Linked DNA regions of Homo sapiens. The protein of the gene in region 2 interacts with the protein of the main gene of each other region in a pairwise test. Each region holds a gene or a part of one and is shown on either strand. Other genes may lie near its edges.

The links.
Region 1: the proteins of SYN3 (region 2) and CFAP418 interact in a two-hybrid assay, tested with the Homo sapiens proteins (one study listed by IntAct).

Annotation. Positions count from the first base shown.
Region 1 is NC_000008.11:95,250,169-95,260,679, forward strand, and holds part of CFAP418 (cilia- and flagella-associated protein 418), read right to left. Parts: intron 10,365-10,511; coding exon 10,300-10,364; intron 9,738-10,299; coding exon 9,672-9,737; intron 2,116-9,671; coding exon 2,020-2,115; intron 1-2,019. UniProt on the Homo sapiens protein: May be involved in photoreceptor outer segment disk morphogenesis.
Region 2 is NC_000022.11:33,053,487-33,063,829, reverse strand, and holds the start of SYN3 (synapsin-3), read left to right. Parts: upstream 1-5,448; 5' UTR 5,449-5,538; exon of another isoform or gene 5,539-6,669; intron 6,670-10,343. UniProt on the Homo sapiens protein: May be involved in the regulation of neurotransmitter release and synaptogenesis.

The DNA.
Region 1 (10,511 bases), on a different chromosome or scaffold from region 2:
TGATTTATATCCTAATGGTGGAGACCGCCTTATTCTTTAGCTGTTCCATTCTCTTATCTCCCAAACATATTCCTAAGTGTCTTGAGAACTGAGACAGTATTTTCTACTGATTTAAATAATGACTACTTGTTTATTTTTAATAGTATAATAAATCCTCTAGTTGTCACTGTTTTATCTAAAAGTACATATATTTTTTAAACCAGGCTGCCACAGATCTAGGGTAAACCAACTGGTGTTCTTGATAACTCTGAGATGCTGCAAGTTCCTCAAGTACCGACTAGGTTATCCATAGTTTACTTTATGCCTGTGTTCACCACTGCCTTGATGTTACATGCATTTTATTATCCTATGATAGTTTTATAAAAATTCATGCTTCATCTTGGTGACATATGGGGATTATTAACCACTTATTAGATTAACTAGTAGACAGTAAATAGCAGAGGGTTTAGAAAAGTCAGAAAAGGGAAAGTCAACCTGTAATTAAAAGCCAACTTTTCCACTTATGGGGTAAAAAGTGGGCTAAGCCTAAAAGTATGGGTTCCTAACCTCAGATTTTGGGAGTACATTAGGCTTTATTTGGGTTGGAAACTGTAAAATTTTTCAAGTTATAATTTTTCCATGTATTTTTATATTTGAATTGTATGTGTATGAGGGGCATTCAAAGCTTTCATAAGATTTGCAAAGTGGTTCTTGATGTGAAAAAGTTTAAAAACTATTAAATTAGGGTATACTCATAGATTTACCCAAGAATGGCTGCCAAAAAAGGCGTAGGGGAAAGTCTCTTACCCTTTTCTTTATGCTATTGAAAAGTGCTGCAATATTACACTGTATTAATTTTTAGCTTTAAATTTTTATTTGAAAATGTCAATGTAAAGTTCAAATATATTTTTATAACTTGTAACACCTTAAAGATAGTAGGTATTCTGTAAGTGTATAAGAATGTACAAATTATATAAATATGAGCAAGACATTATCTCAGCCACAAGGAGGGAGGTAGTCATACACCAACCTAAGAGCTTCAGTTTTATATTACAGTATATAATAGGTCCAAAGCACCGTGAATACACAGGAAGGGAAGAGTTTTCTTCCAGTTGAGAGAGTGGTGAAAGAATCATGGAAGACATGTGATGAATTATACTCTGAAGGACAGGTAGGGTTTAGGTAGATAAAATGGTGGGAAGGCATCCCAAGAGGTAAAGAGGTTGTACAAAGTCAGAGGGAATGGGAGCCTTGAGTACTCTGATGTAGCTAAAATCTTGCAAAGGTGAAATATACATTGTGGGAAGACAAAGCTGGATGATGGATGGATGGGAGCTGGATTATGGAGGGTCATGAATGCCATGCTAAGGAATTTGGACATTATTCTGTAAGTGGAAGGGTGTTGAGCAGGAGGACGGTATACTCTGAGCTATGCTTTAATTCTGAACAAGGGAAGGATGGTCTGAGAGAAGAGATTGTAGCCAGAAAAACCAGTGAGGAGGTTACTTCTGTATTCTTGTCCAGAAGTAACATGTCCTTATCTAGGCTGACAGCAGGCAGATGGAGAGAAGGAGATGGATGACAGAAACACAGTCATGCATTGCTTATGCTTTGTTAGGCAATTCCATCATTGTGGGAATATCAAAGAGTGAATTTATACAAACCTAGATGGTATAGCCTACCACACACCTAGGCTATATGGTATAGGCTACTGTTCCAAGGCTACAAACCTCTACAGCATGTTACTGTTTATACCAGCATCACCACAAACATGTGCAATGCATTGCAGTATAATATTACAAAGGCTATGATGTCACTAGGTGATAGGAATTTTTCAACTCCGTCATAATCTTATGGAACCACCATGTATATATATATATGCAGTCCATCGTTGACTGAAGCATCATAACGCAGCACATGACTATACTGAAGAGGTGAAGCCCACAAGATCTGGCTGAATCCACCCAGAGAGAATATATCAAAATAGGAAATATAAACTACTTGGTACTTTTTTCAGAGTGAAGTTCTTTAGCAACATACCTGAAAAACAGATAATCACACGATTTGTCCCACATATAGTCATCATAGCTGACTACCAAGAAATCACAGGCTATACAACGCAGATGGTCACATGCTCTGTTCAGAGAAAAAAAATTGTATATTAAAGATTATTGGTATCTTTAAATACCAATGAAAACATGGTGATTTATTTATAGGATACACCACATATTACAGATTACTGAATAAACAACAGAAAAGTACAGATTAATCTGATTATAAATCTTTATACTAAAGCATTATTTACGGTCTAAACCTTAAGGTTAAATTTTTGCACAAACCTACCTATTTTACTATGATCTTGTACACTGAACTTACACATATATTATATAGATATGAAAGAAAATAGATTTGTAGATCTTTTAATTCCATGGTTTTCAAATTACGTCTGAGGGAGATCGTCATATAAGCTAACTTCTTTAAATGCTCCCCTTCCTACTGAAATTTTCAGGAATATCTCTACCGAAGAATATGTCACATGACATTGAAATGAATCTGTTTTTCAGATAAGCTGCTTAAGCGCTGGGAAAAGATTGTATTTGTTTGCTTCCTCACAACTTGGCATAATGCATTCATTCACTCAAAAAATATTTATTGAGAGTCTGGTATGTGCTAATGAGATTCTGTCTTCATAGAGCTTTGATTGCAGTGAGAGAAGAAACAAACAATGCTCATGATAACTAGACTATATACTAACCTGGAGGGATATCTGAAGCAAGGTGCACACTAACATATATAGCATGATCCTATTTTTGTAAAAACGACCCCCACAAAAAATTCCTATATAGGTGGCTAGAAGTTTATAAGAACATGGAGCAAAATGGCCGGGCGCGGTGGCTCACGCCTGTAATCCCAGCCCTTTGGGAGGCTGAGGCGGGCGGATCACGAGGTCAGGAGATCGAGACCATCCTGGCTAACACAGTGAAACCCCATCTCTACTAAAAATACAAAAAAATTAGCTGGGCATGGTGGCGGGCGCCTGTAGTCCCAGCTACTCAGGAGGCTGAGGCAGGAGAATGGCGTGAACCCGGGAGGCGGAGATTGCAGTGAGGGGAGATCGCGCCACTGCACTCCAGCCTGGGCGACAAAGCGAGACTCTGTCTCAAAAAAAAAAGAACATGGAGCAAAATGTAGAAAGTTATATACTACACAGTAACCCTGGTTGCATCAGGAGTGGTTGAAGGGAAGGAAGGGAGATTATTATCTTTTTCTTTATACATGTTTCAATTTTGTTTTTATTCTTTCATTAAGCACATAATACTTCTGTAATGAAAAAATAAACTCATCATTAGATTTTTTTCATTTATTTCCCTTCAAAGTTCAGATACGCTAATTTCAAAATGCAAATACTTTTGGCCTGAAAATTTCTTTGAGAATAAATGCTTTGTATTTCTAAAAATACTATTAACCATAATAATAATGAAACATTTAAAACCTATACAAGTTTCATAGGCAAGTCCATATTTTCTTTCAAACTGTTAGCAATTTATGAAGTTGCATTTCTACATTTGGAAATTCAACAACTACATTTGTACACATTTGAACTCAGACTTCGAATGTACAAGTCAGGAAATGCAAATTGATAGTTCCCAAAGCTACTATGACCTGCTTTCTTATGCATATATAGTTTATTACATGATTGCACAGAGTGTTAACTTTAATGCCTTAATACATATGTGCAATTTGGCTGAATTATTGCTGTTGTGGGAACTATAATTTAGAATTTCCTGACATTTTGTATGTGTAAAATCTCAACCATAATGCTAAATACAGCTTTTTAATTTAATTTAAAATTTAGTAGTTTATTCAAATCTATTCACACCACCACATTTTCCTACAAACACTGTCCTTTGAGAAACATAAAACTAACTTGCAGCTAAGAAATCATTCCACTGCTACGATTTACTCTATTAGATCATAATTAGTACCAGTCTATGGAATAATCCAGTCTTGCAAGTTGTTTAAAAAATAATTGAGAGTAAAATTCGATTGGCTTGAAAATGCCTTCGTTTTATCTGTAGTACTTATTACTGCCACCATGCTTCCTACTACTATTCTCTCCCCTTTTCCACCAACAAGTGAAAGACAAATCTTTTTCTAAAATCTAAAGTCATTCAGCATTACCTCAAGCCAGAGCTGTATCTAGAAATCAAACAACGCAAATAGGCAGGATAGATTCAATTTCCTTTATGCCCTGGCCATGTAAATCAGTACTCTTTTCAGGGCTGAAATATATTTCTCTTTCATAACTATGTACATAAAAGCATATCTAATATAAAGTCATGACTCCAGTGAAAGACAAACTGTCAGGTCTTTCCCTCTAAAATGTAGAGGGAATCACACATAAGATGTCACCAAGAGCTTTGTTCTTTTGTCCAGCTAAAAAGTAGAATTCACTATTTTAAAGATGTTTACGACAGGAATGCCCCAAATCCAACCCAATACAATCTTCTGCCCAGACACTGTGGTTCTCTGTTAAATCCTATCAGATCTGCACAATGGGACTAAAGAAACTTGATGTCTGGATAGTTTGAAGATAACAGCAGTTCCAACAGCAACATCAGCTAAGATTCTTCCCATATTACATGGCTTTCTGCTAAGTGGTATAATAGAAAGCATAATGGATTAGGAATCAAGTAACCAATCTGGATCCTTGCTTTGCAATAACTGATATGACCTTGAGCAAGGCACCTTATTTGGGAGTCATTCTTAACAACTTTCTTTCTTACCCTCCTTAGTCAATCACTGAATTCTGTCAATTCTATATTCTAAATATTTCAAATTTGACCTTTTCCCTATAGCCATTGCTACCACGCAGGTCACAGCTCCCATCTTCTCTTTCCTGGACCACTCTAACTACTGCCCATTGACTAGTCTTCCTGTGTCCTTTCCTGTCTTGCCCCTCCAACTCCCAAGCCATTTTCTGCACAGCAGCCAACATGACTTTTTTAAGAAACACAAATCTGGCCCATTGAACACAGGACAAACTTTTTCCAAAATCCTCAAAAGGATTACAGGACCCTAAGCCAAATGTCCCTCCACTCTCTCTCCAGCCCAGTCAGTGGCCATTCTTTCCCTACTCATTATGCTCCAGCATGGCCAGATACTCTCTGTTCCTTCCACCAGAGGAACACCCCCAGCTCCTCCCCTTCTCAGGGAGCTTCTAAACATGCGTGTGCTCTGGCTCCAATGGTCACCTCTCTTTGTCTAACTCCTACTCATTTTTCATATTGTGGTTTGATTATCTGCTCAGAGAAGTATTCCCTGACCCTTCATATTAGTTAGAGTGTCCATTATCTATGCTTATAGTATCCCATATGTTCCCTTTATGTCACATATCAAATGGAAAATAAATACTTATTTGTGGAATAATCTATTTAAAGCCCATCTCCTCATCTAGACTGAAAGCTCATTGAAGACAGGAAGTGTCCATTTATTTGTTCATCAAAATTTGTTCATTTAATCCTTAGGACCTATCAGGTGGTTAATATGTGTTTGATGAATTTAACACAAGTACCTCAATCTCTTCATTTATAAAATGGAGGTAAAAATTCTTGATCAGCATCTTGGGTTTTTCTCTTGTGGAGCAGGTAAGTCAATATGCATATATAAAAAGTGCTCTGGACAGTATAAAGTACTTCACACATAAAATTTGCATATGCAGATGAACACATGTGTTTGTCTTTCTATGGGTGCAAATTCTGTTTCATGAAAGGGGCAACTAATAAAAAATCTGTGAATACAAACATTTACCTGCGCATATATATGCAACTGGTATCTCTTCTTACAGCTGTGCAGGAGGTAGAAATCAGGTATAATTGATTTCGGCATCCCACTTGGACTAATAGTATGTGATAGGAGCCTCGAGCTATGAAAACAGGCTGTTCTTTGGTTTACTGAAATTCCATCTAACATAGATTTTGTCTGTGCTACAACTAAATCAAAGTACGTACAAAATATTTCATACATAAGAAAATCTTAATGAAATGTTTACTTTTTAGAAGTAAACCAGAATGTATTTTTTTAAAAGATCATTTGTAAAAACAGAAGGCACCTGTAATTATATGTATTTCCTGAGATAAAATGGAAAACTAGTAGTAGAATAAAGATTCTTGTCCCTGAGATATAACGTAACAAGAAAGCAGGACTAATGGATGAGAAAGACACCTTAATTAGAACCCAGTGTGCCTGCAGTACCTAGCTGTCTTTTGCACCATAGGCATAGTTTTCATGTATTATTTCATTTAATCCTCAGAGTATCTCCATGAAATATGTTTAGTTTTTAAGAGTGAGGAAACAGGTTTTAGAAGATAACATCCCTTCTTAAGGCTTCAGAGCTTGTAAGTGGCAGAGTGAGGCTTTGAACTCAGGCATTCTGTCATCAGAGCCCTTCCATTTCAGGCCACAGGAGTAATCATTTGCTTCTTTGTTCCTTACTGGCCAGTGTTTTGCCTTTTATTGATAAGCTAGCACAGGGTTTAGGACATGGGCATTCAATGGATTTAAAAAATCGAAAAAATTTAAATAGAAAAATCAATCTGCAGTGTGTGAATTAAACAGATAAGGCAGCAGGAGACATGCATTAGAAGGGAGTGTTGTTCCAGATAGGGAATAAATGTAAATATACTCAGACACAGAAAAACATAAGTGGAAAGTACAGAATGACAAGCATCCCAGTGGCAGTGGAATATCTGACCCAGGCTTTAATTGGAGCTGAAGGAACTAAAGAGAGAAGAGGAACAACAAGGATAACAATTTGGTAAAGCAAATAGTGAGTTTAGAGTTAATGTGAGACAAATGGCAACTCTCACTTCCCTTCTGAATAGAGGAGAGGCACTCAGAATAGTATTTTAGGGATATTATCTTGAATGCTATATGTGGGTGATATTAGAAAAGATGTAAGTGGATGATAACTGGGAAACTGCTGCTGTGGCTCATGGGTGACTTGAGAGATGCCTGGAATAGAGGAGGCATGGCTCTGAAAATGACGGAGACAAGTCCCAACTGAGTTGAGACAGGCAATTTAGGACTGACAGCAACAACACTACCTCTACAGGCAGTTTGTATCTCTAATTTTTTTGTACAGAGAGTCCTCAACACATGGTGATTCAATTACTATTAATTCTTCTTTATAGCTCTAACAGTAGGTAACATTCCAGTGGATTTATATTAGCCTGTTGGCTGCCTGGTGTTCCCATATAAGGCTTCTCCAGACTCCTAATTTCACTTTTGTCCTATAGCCCTACCTTCTGGGCATTGTCCTTCGATGTAGGCTGGCACCACCACAACCCTCCAACAATGTTTTTTTTAACTCCCACTTCTATTATTCAATATAATTAATTTGCCCCAGTGATGTTTTGGTCAATGACGGACCACATATACAACAGTGGTCCTATAGAATTATAACGGAGCTAAATAATTCCTATTCCTAGTTACATCATAGCTGTCCTATATAGCACAATGCTTACTCATGTGTTTGTGGTGACGCTGATGTAAACAAACCTACTGAGCTGCCAGTTGTATAAAAGTAGTGCATACAGTTATGTATAGTACATAATACTTGATAATGATAATAAACTATGTTACTGGTTCATACTTTTACTATGCTATACTTTGAATCATTATTTGAGAATGTACTCCTTCTACTTATTAAAAAAAGTTAACTGTAAAACAGCCTCAGGCAGGTCCTTCGGGAGGTATTTCAGAAGAAGGCACACTGTTACTATGAGATGACAGCCCCATGCGTGTTGTACCCCCGCAACAAAGACCTTCCTGTGGCGCAAGATGTGGAAGTGCAGGACAGTGATATGGATGACCCAGACCCTGTATAGGCCCAGGCTAATGTGAGTGTTGTGTCTTCATTTTTAACAAAAAAGTTTAAAAAGTGAAAAACAGAGCTGGGCGCAGTGGCTCACGCCTGTAATCCCAGCACCGTGGGAGGCCGAGGAGAACAGATCATGAGGTCAGGAGATGGAGACCATCCTGGATAACATAGTGAAACCCCGTCTCTACTAAAAATACAAAAAATTAGCCGGGCGTGGTGGCGGGCACCTGTAGTCCCAGCTGCTCGGGAGGCTGAGGCAGGAGAATGGCGTGAACCTGGGAGGCGGAGCTTGCAGAGAGCCGAGACTGCGCCACTGCACTCCAGCCTGGGCGACAGAGCGAGACTCTGTCTCAAAAAAAAAAAAAAAAAAAAAGTAAAAAACAATGAAACAATAGAAAAAAGCTTATAGAATAAGGATACAAAGAAAGAAAATATTTTAGTATAGCTGTACGATGTATTTTAAATTGTTATTAAAAAGAATCAAAAGTTAAAAAAATAAAAAAATTTATAAATGAAGTTTCAGTAAGCTAAGGTTAATATTATTAAAGACATTTAAAAGTAAACTTAGTGTAGCCTAAGCTACAGTGTTTATAAAGTCTATACTAGTGTAATATCCTAGGCTTTCACAGTCACTCACCACTCATTCACTCACTCAGAGCAACTTCCAGTCCTGCAAGCTCTGTCCATGCTAAGTGCCCTATACAGCTGTACCATTTGAAAAATCTTTTACAATGTATTTTTGCTGTACCTTTTTAATATTTAGATACACAAATATTTACCATTGTGTTACCACTGCCTACTGTATTCAGTGCGGTTACATGCTACACAGGTTTATAGCCTAGTAGTATGTAGTAGGCTAGTATACCACCTAGCCTAGGTGTGGAGTAGGCTATATCATCTAGGTTTGTGTAAGTACACTCTATGATGTTTGTACATGAGGAAGTCATAATGACTTATGACTAATGACATATTTCTCAGAATGTATCCTTGTTGGTGACACTTGACTATACAACAGTTAGCCCTCCAGAAATGTGGTCAACATGCAATCATATAACTTAGGCCATTCTTTCTTAAAAAATTAACAGAAAATAAGTGTTTTAGAAATAATTAGATAAAAGTATTTTAATAAAGTAAGTTAGGTAAGTAGACCTCTGCCAAAAATAGAACCAAAAGCAGCAGGAGAGTAGGGTTTGCTTAAAGCCAAACTGTTTGCCCACATTATGAAAATGCCAATGGAATGTGCTAGGACTATGGGGCTAATATGGGTTTGGGGTAGGTGGCATCATGACTATAAGACTGCCCAGAAAGAGGTACTGAGTGAGAAAGTGGAGGCAGGAAGGGCAGGGAAGAGACAAAGAACATAAGGTTTTTGTTTTTGAAATATGTAAACATGTAAAATCAAGCAACTACGCTTGAGAATGTTTTGGGCAATGCAGACCTGTAGCTTTGCATGCTAATTGGCCAAGGCAGTGTGGGTAAGGCATCATGTATCTGCATGGCCACTTTGCTTCCACTGCCTGGAAGGAAGTTCACTCTCCTGTGTCCTGTGGAAACAAAGCTGGGACTGGAGTGATCCAGGCATTTCAAGTGGGGCTTAGAAAAGGGCATAAAATGAATAATATGTACCTAACATCACAGCTTTCAATAGCTATCTCCCAAGAATAAAAAACAAAGAATTCTTAGATTAGCTAATAAAAATACCTCTCCTTATAAAACAGATTGATGTGAAGATGATAACTACATTTTAACAATGGGGCATCCATTTGGAAAAAACCTAGTAAGAAAGTATAATACATTTCTGACAACCTACCTCCATGAAATATTTGTTCCAATCCCACATGGAATAGAGCTTCCACCAAGGTACACCGGACTGCAACTAGATGTGTTCAACAGATGCAAAAATATGAAGTTATAACAAAAAATAGGAGAAGTTAATTTGGCCATGTTAAAAAAATTTTTGGTTTTATTGACTTTATGTTCTTGTAATCAAATTGTCTATTTTCCCTAGCAAGCCAACCATTTCAAAGAAGAGATATTTATTGTAGGATCACTGCTTTATTGGATATAACCTGTACATTCAGGAACACTCAAGGAATTAAAATGAGTAAAAGAAAAATGTGTTTGCCAAATAATGTAAGGGACAAAGTAAATACTGAAGAATATAACAGAACATTAATTTTGAGAAACTGTTCACACTTTTTTTAAATGGCAGAAAATTATTTACAATAGCAATAATCCCCCATTTAATTTCCTTTACACAAAGGGGGTCACAGACCATAAGAACACTGAAGATATTGCTATTGGTCTTTCTCCTGAAGGCCAACCAATGCTTTGTTGTTCAATGTCACTGCTGTTTAAATGGTAACAAAATCTACTAGACTATGCTCATAGTGTTTGCTCAATAGTGTGTATAATTCACCAAAGCAATCTCAACTTACCTTTTACCAAGGCCTTCAATGGAAGCTCTGACAGATGTGTTACCTGAAGATTTAGATTTTAATTTCTGTTAAAAAAGCAAAACAATAAAAGGCCATGAGTAACTTAGAAAACTGTAACATGAAAACTAATATTCCTTATAACAAGAATATTTTCTAAATGACTTAAATACAAATTTTCATGGCATCATTTTTAAGTTTCTGAAATAAAAACA
Region 2 (10,343 bases):
GCCTCCCTTTAAGGGGGACTCCAAGGACTTGGAAACTTATTTCTCTGGTTGCCATGACAATCCTTTGCAACGTCAGCAAAAATGCTCTGTGCTGCAAACAAGCTAGCACAAAAATCTCCCAAAGTCTTCAGCTCAGAATGAACCTCAACACCAGATCAGGACATGTCACGTCTGAGCCTTTACTCAGGAATCCCAGGAAAGAACCATAGATGTTAGGAAATTCTAAACACTCTCTTCATTTGACCAGGTTTCAGAGATAAAACAAATTGCCTCATGTTGAGGAATAAACTAATACTTTCAAAATTTCTTTTATTCTATCCTTAACTTCCCCATCTTCCCAAAAGATTTTTTTTTTTAATTCAAATAGGAAACAAGTGAAACCAAACAGTTCTAATTTCACCCTGTCATTGACACTCTGGATAGACTCAAGAGTACTTTACTCCTCCAGCTGATAAAGCTTAGCATTTTACCCCTCAGGGACAGGTTTGAATTTGTACCCACACTCCCATCAGTTTTCACACCTAGCAATTCATCTTTAATGATATGGAGTTTAGGCACCATGATAGTTATGTAGGGGAAAATATTAATGAGCTTTTTCTATCACCTTAAAAATCTTGCTTTGGATGGACAACCAAAAAGACTCCACTCTTTTCGGTCCGTATGGTTAAGTCTTAGCTAAATGAAGTGGAAACTGTCCTGAATTAGGGCCTAGGTCCCAGGTATAGCTCTGTCACTCACCAGCTGTGTTACATGACACGAAGCTGTGTGTGCTAAAATCACACATGGCCTTTGTTGTCAGACAGAACTGAGTTCGAGTTCTCACCTCAACTATGTATTATCTATATGACCTGGGGCCACCCTCCATTTCTTCAGCTATAAAATGAGGATAATAATACCTCCTTAACAAGATCGGCATATGGGTATATAAAGCATTTAGCAGTGCCTGGTACATAACATGTGTTGAGTAAATGGTAGCTATGATTATAATAATCTATAAACTGTGAATACTATCTATTCTGCCTACTTCGCAGGAGTGCATATGAAATGAGGGAATTTATATGAAAGTACTTTGAAAAACTACAAAATTTACATACGAGAGGGCTATTTCTAGAGTGGTTTTGTTATTATAAGAGCCTGCTCACTTAAAAAAAAAATCTGTTAAGAATAGCAGACTTGGGTTCTTTTCAAAAACAAATAACCTTTTAAACACTACCACCGCCACCCCATGGGGTTGGATTTCTTACTGAGTAGTGAGGGAACATGTATACCTATCACCGTGTGTGCATCCATCTGTATGCAAATTCCTGCGCTGAATTGTTGCCCTGGGGAAAGGATCATATGATGCAATATGTTTCTTTTCTTCCTAGATCCATGAGGATTTTTGGTTAAAAGCAAGAGAAATAATTGGAGTAGCTAACACAAGAAGACAGTTTTAACAGAGATGGGAGACTCACAAAATAAAATTGGGTAGGGGACAGGGATGGCAGGACCAAACTTGAGAAACAGAAATCTAGGAAATTCACGAGGTTGGGCGGCAAGATTCATGACCAAGAGTCCAGGAAACTGCTGCCACCACCATTACTGTAAGCAAGCAGTCTTAGTATGTCCAATTTCTCTCTTCATCTTTGTCACTTTCGGGTGAGGGAAAGTCCCAGGAGTGAGCATCCAATAGGCTCAACTTAGACAACATCCTTTCTTCAAGGATTTTTGGAGTAGTTGGGGAGTGGCAAATTGTGCAAGAATCTGTCCCTGGGAATTGCCAGGTCACCATACAAAAAAAAAAAAAAATCCCCCAAAAGAAACATGGAGTACAAATAGAAATAAACAAGTCTTCTAGGAAGCCACCTTTTGTCAGCTCTCATTCTACTGATGAAGAAGGTTCAGAGAAGTTATTCAAGGACTTAGTTTCAGGTCTCCTGGTTCCTAATCCATGTTGACCCTCCTACACAAAACCCAGCAATTTATAAAATCATAAGCCATTTCTCCAGCTTTAAATGATGTCTAAGGTGGAGGAGATAGGAGTAAAAGGGACTGACTCTACAGAAAGTGATTTTCTGTTTTCAGGCCTTTTTGATTACATGAGATCAGTACATAAGAATAAATAATGCTAGAATGCAGCTGACCTCCAATGCATGATGGGAGAACCTCATTACTGCAAAACCCTTGGTGATATATATTGAGAAGTGGCTACAATACATTGAATTTTCAGTAGAAACCATTAAGCACTCCTGCATCTAATTGCCATTTTTTCTTATTCAGAGTGCAATAAAAAATAATTTTCCATGCAATAATTTATCTGGCTTTCATCTAAACCTCTATGCCATTCTGTTTCCTCTTTCCTTCCTTGCTTCAGACTGACAGCACTGAGGCCTTTTAGATTTACAGACCCAGACATGAATACACACCTTCCATGTTTCCCCAAGCAACATTCCTGTGCATATTTGAAAACCAGTAGTTAAGAAAAATTATGATGATGTTACAGCTCCAAAGGTTACAGTTGGGAGGAGTTTTGGAGGAGCTGTGCTCTAGCCTGAGGGAAACTGAGGCTTAGAAGATATATGTCAGGTAGATGGAGGTAGGGGCGGGCCAAATGCCATTAAAGACTATGCTGGGTTTTTCATTTGGGATTTCCTTGATCCTTTTATTTCCCATTATTGTTCTCATCCAATCTGGACAGACACTATGAGGGTTTCTTTAAAAGGTTGGAGGTATTGTCTAATCCAGAGGTGGAAATAGTCCCTAAGGGGATAAATCCAGCCCATACATGGGTTTGATCTTGTCCAACAGTCTTGGCCAATACAGTCTTTTAAAAAGTTTTAGTTAATTGGCTGGGTGCAGTGGCTCACGCCTGCAATCCCAGCACTTTGGGAGGCCAAGGCGGGCGGATCATGAGGTCAGGAGATCGAGACCCTCTTGGCTAACGCGGTGAAACCCCATCTGTACTAAAAATACAAAAAATTAGCTGGACGTGGTGGCGGGCGCCTGTAGTCCCAGCTACCTGGGAGGCTGAGGAAGGAGAATGGCGTGAACCCGGAAGGCAGAGCTTGCAGTGAGCCGAGATTGCACCACTGCAATCTCGACAATCCACTGCAATCCAGCCTGGGCGACAGAGCGAGACTCCGTCTCAGAAAAAAAAAAAAAAAAAGTTGTAGTTAATTACCAGCATTTAAAAAAACCAGAGATTTAACATAATCTGAATTTCTGGCCTCTTAATAAAAATCAGGGTCTGGTGTGGTGGCTCACGCCTATAATCCCAGCACTTTGGGAGGCCAAGGTGGGCAGATCACGAGGTTAGAAGTTCGAGACCAGTCTGGCCAACATGGTGAAACCCTGTCTCTACTAAAAATACACAAATTAGCCAGACGTGGTGGTGGGCGCCTGTAATTCCAGCTGCTTGGGAGGCAGGAGAATTGCTTGAACCAGGGAGGCGGAGGTTGCGGTGAGCTGAGATCGCACCACTGCACTCTAGCCTGGGTGACAGAGCAGGACTCAGTCTCGATAAAAAACAAACAAACAAAAAACAGAACATCTGGCAACTCTGGGTGGGTCTCCATTCACATATGGCAAAAATCAGTTGGAGCTGAGCAGTGACTGTCACCTTAGGCAGGTGTGCATACCTCAGTCTGTCACAAGCCCCATCCCTCCTTTCTATTATACCCTGCCAACCTCACTTAGTACATGACTACCCGGCCACGTCGGTATTAAAGTTTGTGATCCTTCAGCTAGTCTTATGCCCTCTTAGTTACTGAGGTTAGAGTCACTCCCTCTTAGTTACTGAGATCATGTACTAACGCTCATGCAGTAAGTGGAAGATGCTGGGTAAGAACCTTCCCGATCTTGGAAATAGTACCATTACTCCACAGTGGCTCAAGCTAAACACCTAGGAGATTTTCTTCTTTCATCCCTTTACGTCAACCCCTGTCATAGTCTATTTTGTGCCAATATAACAGAATATCACAGACTGGGTAATTTATAAGGAACAACAATTTATTTAGCTCATGGCTCTGGAGGCTGGGAAGTCCAAGATTGAGGGGCTGCATCTGGTAAGGGCCTTCATGCTGAGTCACCCCATGGCACAAGGCAGAACAAGAGAGCAGCAGAGGGGTGGGGAGAGGGCCACTCCTGGCATTAATGGAATCACCTCTTAAAGGTCCCACCTCTCAACACTGTTGCATTGGGGATTAAGTTTCCAAGATATGAACTTTGGGGAACATATTTAAACCATAGCATCCCCTAAATCCAGCCTAATCCATCATCAAGCCTTCCTGTGCTACTTTTGACACACATTGCAGGAGGTCCACCTTTTCCGTATCTTGCTGTCACCACCCTGGTCTTCATCACCATAATCTCTTGCCTGAATTGTTCCCTCCAGATTGATATGACAAAGCCCTGACCCTCACGGTGGCCTACAAGGTTCTGGGTGATGGTGATTCCACACTAGTCTACCTCTCTGGCTGTAACCCACTCTCCCCTTGCTCACCTCACTCAGCCACCCTGGGGGCCAGTTCCAGCTTCAGAACCATGCATCGGCCGACCCCTCTGTCAGCAATGCTCTTGCTTCAGCCCTGGAATCGTTTTTGTCCTCCAAGTATCCAATATCACAAGCGGCCCGGAGACCACCCTAGGTATAGCAGTCCTAGACCCCTTTCTTTTTCTTTTCTTTTTTTTGGAGACGGCATCTAGCTCTGTTGCCCAGGCTGGAGTGCAGTGGCTCTAACTCGGCTTACTGTAACTTCCACCTCCCGGGTCCAAGCAATTCTGCCTCAGCCTCCCGAGTAGCTAGGACTACAGGTGAGGGCCACCATGCCCAGCTAATTTTTGTATTTTTAGTAGAGACGGGGTTTTATCATCTTGGCCAGGCTGGTCTTGAACTCCCGACCTCGTGATTCACCTGCCTCGGCCTCCCAAAGTGCTGGGATTACAGGCGTGAGCCACAGGCACCCAGCCGACATTCTCTTGTTTTTTTCGTTTGTTGTATATAACCTACCCCCACCTCCACCCCATGCAAAGTCCACGAGGACGATAGACTTTGTCTTGTTCCCTGTTGCATCCTGGCCCTAGGGCCTAGCCCACAACCTGGGACATTTCCTGACAAGGGGCCCTGGTTTCTCTGAGGTGCCACCTGAGGTCCGGGAGGTCAGCTGACTTTCCCAAAGGTGGATTCCAAGGACACTGCATTCTTCGCACTCCCCGAGGGGCGTCTAGACACTCCTGGGACCCAGAATTATTAGCTAACTGGGCTCCTGAGTCCGGTGAGAGCTCAGAGTCTAGAAGCAACTTTCCCTGCCTGGAGAGGTGAACCCAGCAAGGCGTTGGGGAGAGGCGTGGGCGAGGGAGTGGGCGCGGGTGGGCGGGGCCGTCCGGGGGCCTCGTTGCCCGAGCCAATGGGGCGCCGCGGCGCGGGGAGGCCGGGCCGCCGGGCGGGGGCGCTCGCGCGCGTTGAGGGGCAGAGGCTGAGCTCCCGGGACCCGGAGCGGATCGACTGGCGGGCGCCGCGCCGAGGCACCACCGGGCGCCGAGTTCCTGGCGGCTCGCACGGTAAGCGGCGCGGCGCCGCAAAGTAGACTTTGTGGGGTTTCTGACAGCCGGGAGACCCCACCTCGAGCGGGGGCTGCTGGTGCGTTCTCGCGTCGGGCTGCGTCCCCTGGAGCTCCGGCTCTGTGTCCGCGGGATGCGGGCGCACGGAGGGGCAGGGAGGGAGGCAAGGAGCCGCGCACCACGGTGTCTCCCCAGGCTGCCGCTGCCGGGGCCCTGGGCCGGTCCCTGGGACAGACAGATCGGCGTGCGGGGGCCGTCTGCCGGGCCCGGGAGCCGGGGGCGCGCAAGACTGTGGATCCTAAGACTGCCTCCACCCAGCGCCCGGCCCGGGGAAGAGCTTGCGGGAAACCAGGAACCGCAGCGGCCGGACCTCTGCTCTGCGCCGGCTCCTAGGACCTGCCTTAGGTCCCCAGACCCCTCATGACCTGTTGCCTTGGGTTTGGGAGGTCAGGTTTGTCATGCCATTTCCGATTTCCAGTCATCCTGGGGGCAGGATGAAATTTCAGAGTGGTTTCCTGGCCAAGCTAGAAGCAGAGAATAGCTATGGATACAGCACCTCGTGTATCTATCCAGCACTTACTTGGCTTTTTCTGAGTGCCAGGAACTGTGCCAAGCCCTAGCAGCATGAAGAATGGCCTTTGGGGAGCTTCTGGGGCTAAGAGGGACAGTAGGAGGAGCAATTGCAGTGCAGGGTAGTGCGGAAGACTCGAGATGGAGAAGAGGACGGTGAGGAAGCCAGGAAGGTTTCAGAGAGGAGGTGAGCATTGACTGGAAGTCGGAGGTTTTGCCAGGCTGAAAAGTGTGTTGGGACTGTGAGTTGATAGGGAGCAGGAATTCCAGGTGGGTTTTCTTGTGTAAAGGTAAAGAAACTGAAAAGGTCCGGTGTCCTGACCTAGCACATCAGATAATTCTACAGCAGATAATGGAGTAGGACCGGGTCTTGCTGTAGGTAGGAAATGAGCTCTCGACATGGCAGGAAGCTAAAACCTGCACAGACCTTAAAGTGCAGCCTTAGAATATTTAGAATTTTATCCTGGAATGAAGGAGGGCCGTGGAAGAATTCTGATCAGTGATCAGGTCCCTCTGGCAGCTCTGGGGACAATGGATGGAGGCCGGAGCATCAGAAAGCTGGTAAGTTGTAGTTGTTTTCTGGTCCTTGGCTGCAAATACTCTTCCCTGCTTAAGGGAGCCCCCTCTGCCCGGGAGCCCTGCTCCCTGGCTTCTGGACATGGATTCAGGCAAAGAGATGCTGCCCGTGTAATGCTTGCTTCTGCAGCCTGCACATCATTTTGATATTGTTTCTGGAGCCTGTGACCTCAGTCTTGTCATCAGGCCTCTGAAGGGTGCCTCTGCTCTTCTTTTCTCATCTTCAAGCCCTCTGTGTGCCCTTCCCCTCTGCCTGGGCTCCCCTTTCTGTTTCACAGAGATCCAGTCTCAGCCATTGGAGGCAAGGCTGTGTGTAGATTGGTGTAGTAGAAAGAACAAGGGCTCGCTGGGAAATCAGACCAGAAAGTCACTTTAGCCATAGGCTTTGGGGACATTAGCAACCTTCATGAACCTTCTTTTTCTGATTTAAAAGGAAATCATTGTACTCACCTGTCATGGTTTGGGTTCCCTGGAAAAAGACTTGGCGCTTCTGAGATTTTTGTGCAGATAAGGGAAGCAGAACTGGGCAGAGGGAGATGTTGATCTATGGTGCAGTGCAAGAGAGGTCTCAATCCCTCCCATGAGACAAAGAGACGAGGCCTTTGAAGCTTAATGTTGATCAGCCAGTGGGTGCAGGCTGGTCCTAGGGAGGGAGCTAGGATGTCCCTTCAGCAGGACAGTTCCTGACTAGGGACTCACCTGGGAGCTGGGGTAACCAACACTCTGGCAGCTGGACATGGGGAAGTCATGAGTGTCTTGGTCTTGGAGGGGGAGTTGAGCATTTCCCCACGGTATCCACTACACTACCTCACAAATGAAGTAGTGCTTTGTACTGTGCCTGGTGCATAGTAGATATCTTAAAAGTATTCATTTCTCTCACCTTTAAGTTTCATGACTGCACCTGAAAATGAGTTTTGGAATTCGAGTTGAGTCAGCTTTTGTGAGGAGCTTTTAATAATAATAGCCACGAAGACTACTGCTTCCCTTTTTTGAGTGTCTATTATGTATATACATTCTCTTCTAGTTGTCCAATAATACTCCAACTTAGGTACTTTTATTCTCATTTTATAGTAAACCCAGTCTCTTCCAAAACCCAACCAAGTTGATGTTCTTTTGCCACAAAATAATAATTATAATAATAACAATCACTCACAACTCTATGATTTGTTACACTTTCCAAAGTGCTTTCATTGGTGGATTGATTGATTAATCATTCATTCATCCACTAATTAATCAATCAATGTGTATTGAGTGTCTCTTAAGGAGTAGGCGCTATCCTAGGTGATGGGGAGAAAGCTCAGTCTATTAGAGGAGATAGACATTAAATGCTTGGATTCATCAAAAGCAAGTGTTGAGGGGTGGAACATTGCATTGCATAGCCAGTATGTGATAGAGAATAACAGGCTCTTTGTCCAATTGACTCCTTGCCTTCAGTTTCAATATAACCTTCTTGGAAAGGCCTTCTGTACTCCCTCCCTTTTATTCTCCCTTCGTAACAGTCATTTATCTATTTTATTTACTTTCCTATTGTTGGTCCTCCCCTTTAGACTGCAGACTCCAGGGGATCATACATTGCTTCATCCCAAGAGCCTACCACAGGGTTTAGCACATATTTCTTAAATGAGTGAAATGAATGAAGGGTGGATGTGCTTAACAGTGTAGTCAGGGAAGGTCTCCCAAAGTAGTGATATTTACACTGAGATCTGGGGAATGAGAAAGATCCGGCAACGCCAAGATCAAGAGGCAGAGAGAACAGCTTATTCAAAGACCGCGAGGTGGAGGAATGGAGGCTATTGTGGTTGGAGCGCATAGTGGGCAAATTGTGTGGAGTGGCCCGAGATGAGTTTGAAGGCAGTGGAGTCTTGGAGGCCATGCTGAGCTTACATTTTTATCTAAAGTGCAACAAACGAATCATTGAAGGATTTTAAGCCTGATGTGATAGTGTATATTTGTGTGTTGTCTGTTATGCCTCTGGGAGGAGAACTCCTTGAAGAAAGGTGCTTAGTAAATAGTGCTTAAATGAATGGATGATCTGGTTTATGTTTTAAAAGGAGTCAATCTCAGCTTCCAGGTGAGAAGTGGAATAGAGAGAAGAAAGATCTTGTCACAGTTGGAAGCTCAGTGAGATATATATTGGTGTCTGGGCTAGAGGACAGCAATAGTGTTGGAGAAAAGTAAAAGGGTTTGAGCTCTATTTAGGAAGCAAAATGGACAGGACTTGCTGATACTTTAAATGCAGGGAATATGGGAAAAGGGTGGGGATGAAGGATGGTGGCCAGCCTTATGGTTTCAGATTGGTTGGCTACTGAAAGTCTGGCAGCTCCATCAGTAAGTGACTGAATAAACAAAATGTAGTATAACATACAATAGAATGTTACTCAGCCATAACAAGGAGTGAAGTACTAATACATGCTGCAATGTGGATGAACCTTAAAAATGCTATGTGAAAACGTGGTTTAAAAGCCAGACACAAAAGGTTACATAGTGTATGATTCCCTTTATGTGAAGCATCCAGAATAGGTCAATCCATAGAGACAGAAAACAGATTGGTGTTTGTGCTGATCTGAGGGGGAAGTGGGACTGGGGCTTGACTGCTTAATGGCTAAGTGGTTTCCTTTTGAGGTGATGAAAATGTTTTGGAACTAGATAGAGGCGACAGTTTGTACATCATCATGAGGATAGTAAATGCCACGCATTGTTAGTTTAAAATGGCTAGCTTTTAGTTATGTAAATTTCACCTAATTAAAAAAACAAACAAACAAAAGTTGGGTGGATGGGAGCACTATTCACATAACAGAGACTAGGCGAGGAGCAGGTTGTGCTTAGAGGATACAATTCAAATACCCTCTTGGAGATGCCCGTAAAACATCCACATAGAGACAGGAATTGGCTGTGAGTCTGGAGTCGAGGAGGGGAGTCTGGGCTGGAGATATAAATATGGCAGTTGTCAGCACTTAGATGTCAGCCAATAAAATGGATGAGTTCGAGTGTGAGAGAGAGAGGAGGAGAAAATCAGAGCTTTGGATCATTCTTTAATTTGATCTTTATAACTATTCATAGGAGATGCGATTGTCCTCATTTTTAGATAAGGACACCAACCCCCTCTCCCGTGTCCAAACGAACTTGCCCAAAATCAGTTCGTTCCTGTGAGTCTCCAGACTTCCAATCCTTTGTCTTTCCCATCTCAGTGTGATGCCATTTAGAACTTCGGCAAACACTTTCTCTCCCAAATCTTTTGGTCATGATTGAGTATTCACACGTGGCAGGCACTGTCCAGGTTTATGTTAGTGGAGAAAGTAGACATGGCTCTAATCTCATGGAGTTTATCCAGTAAACAGGAAACTGCAGCCCACAACTCCAGGAGACCTTAAGATCACAGAGCAGGGGCATCTATCCCTGGTTTGGGGGTTGGCGGGTGGTTGGGGAAGGCTTCCAAGAGATAGTGATGTTTAAGCTGAATTTGTAACAGAAGCAGAGGGAATTAGCCCAAGAAAGAGAATAATCCACCATTGTCTTCATTTCCCCGTTCCTCCCAGGTTCCTGGCATTCTCCAACTCATCAAGAGAGTCTATGTTTTCTGTAACTCTAGAGGCAATAAGTAAATAAAAGGCTTGGTTTGACTTCAAGCGGGAGCTTCAAAAGGGTAGCAAGGTCGGGTC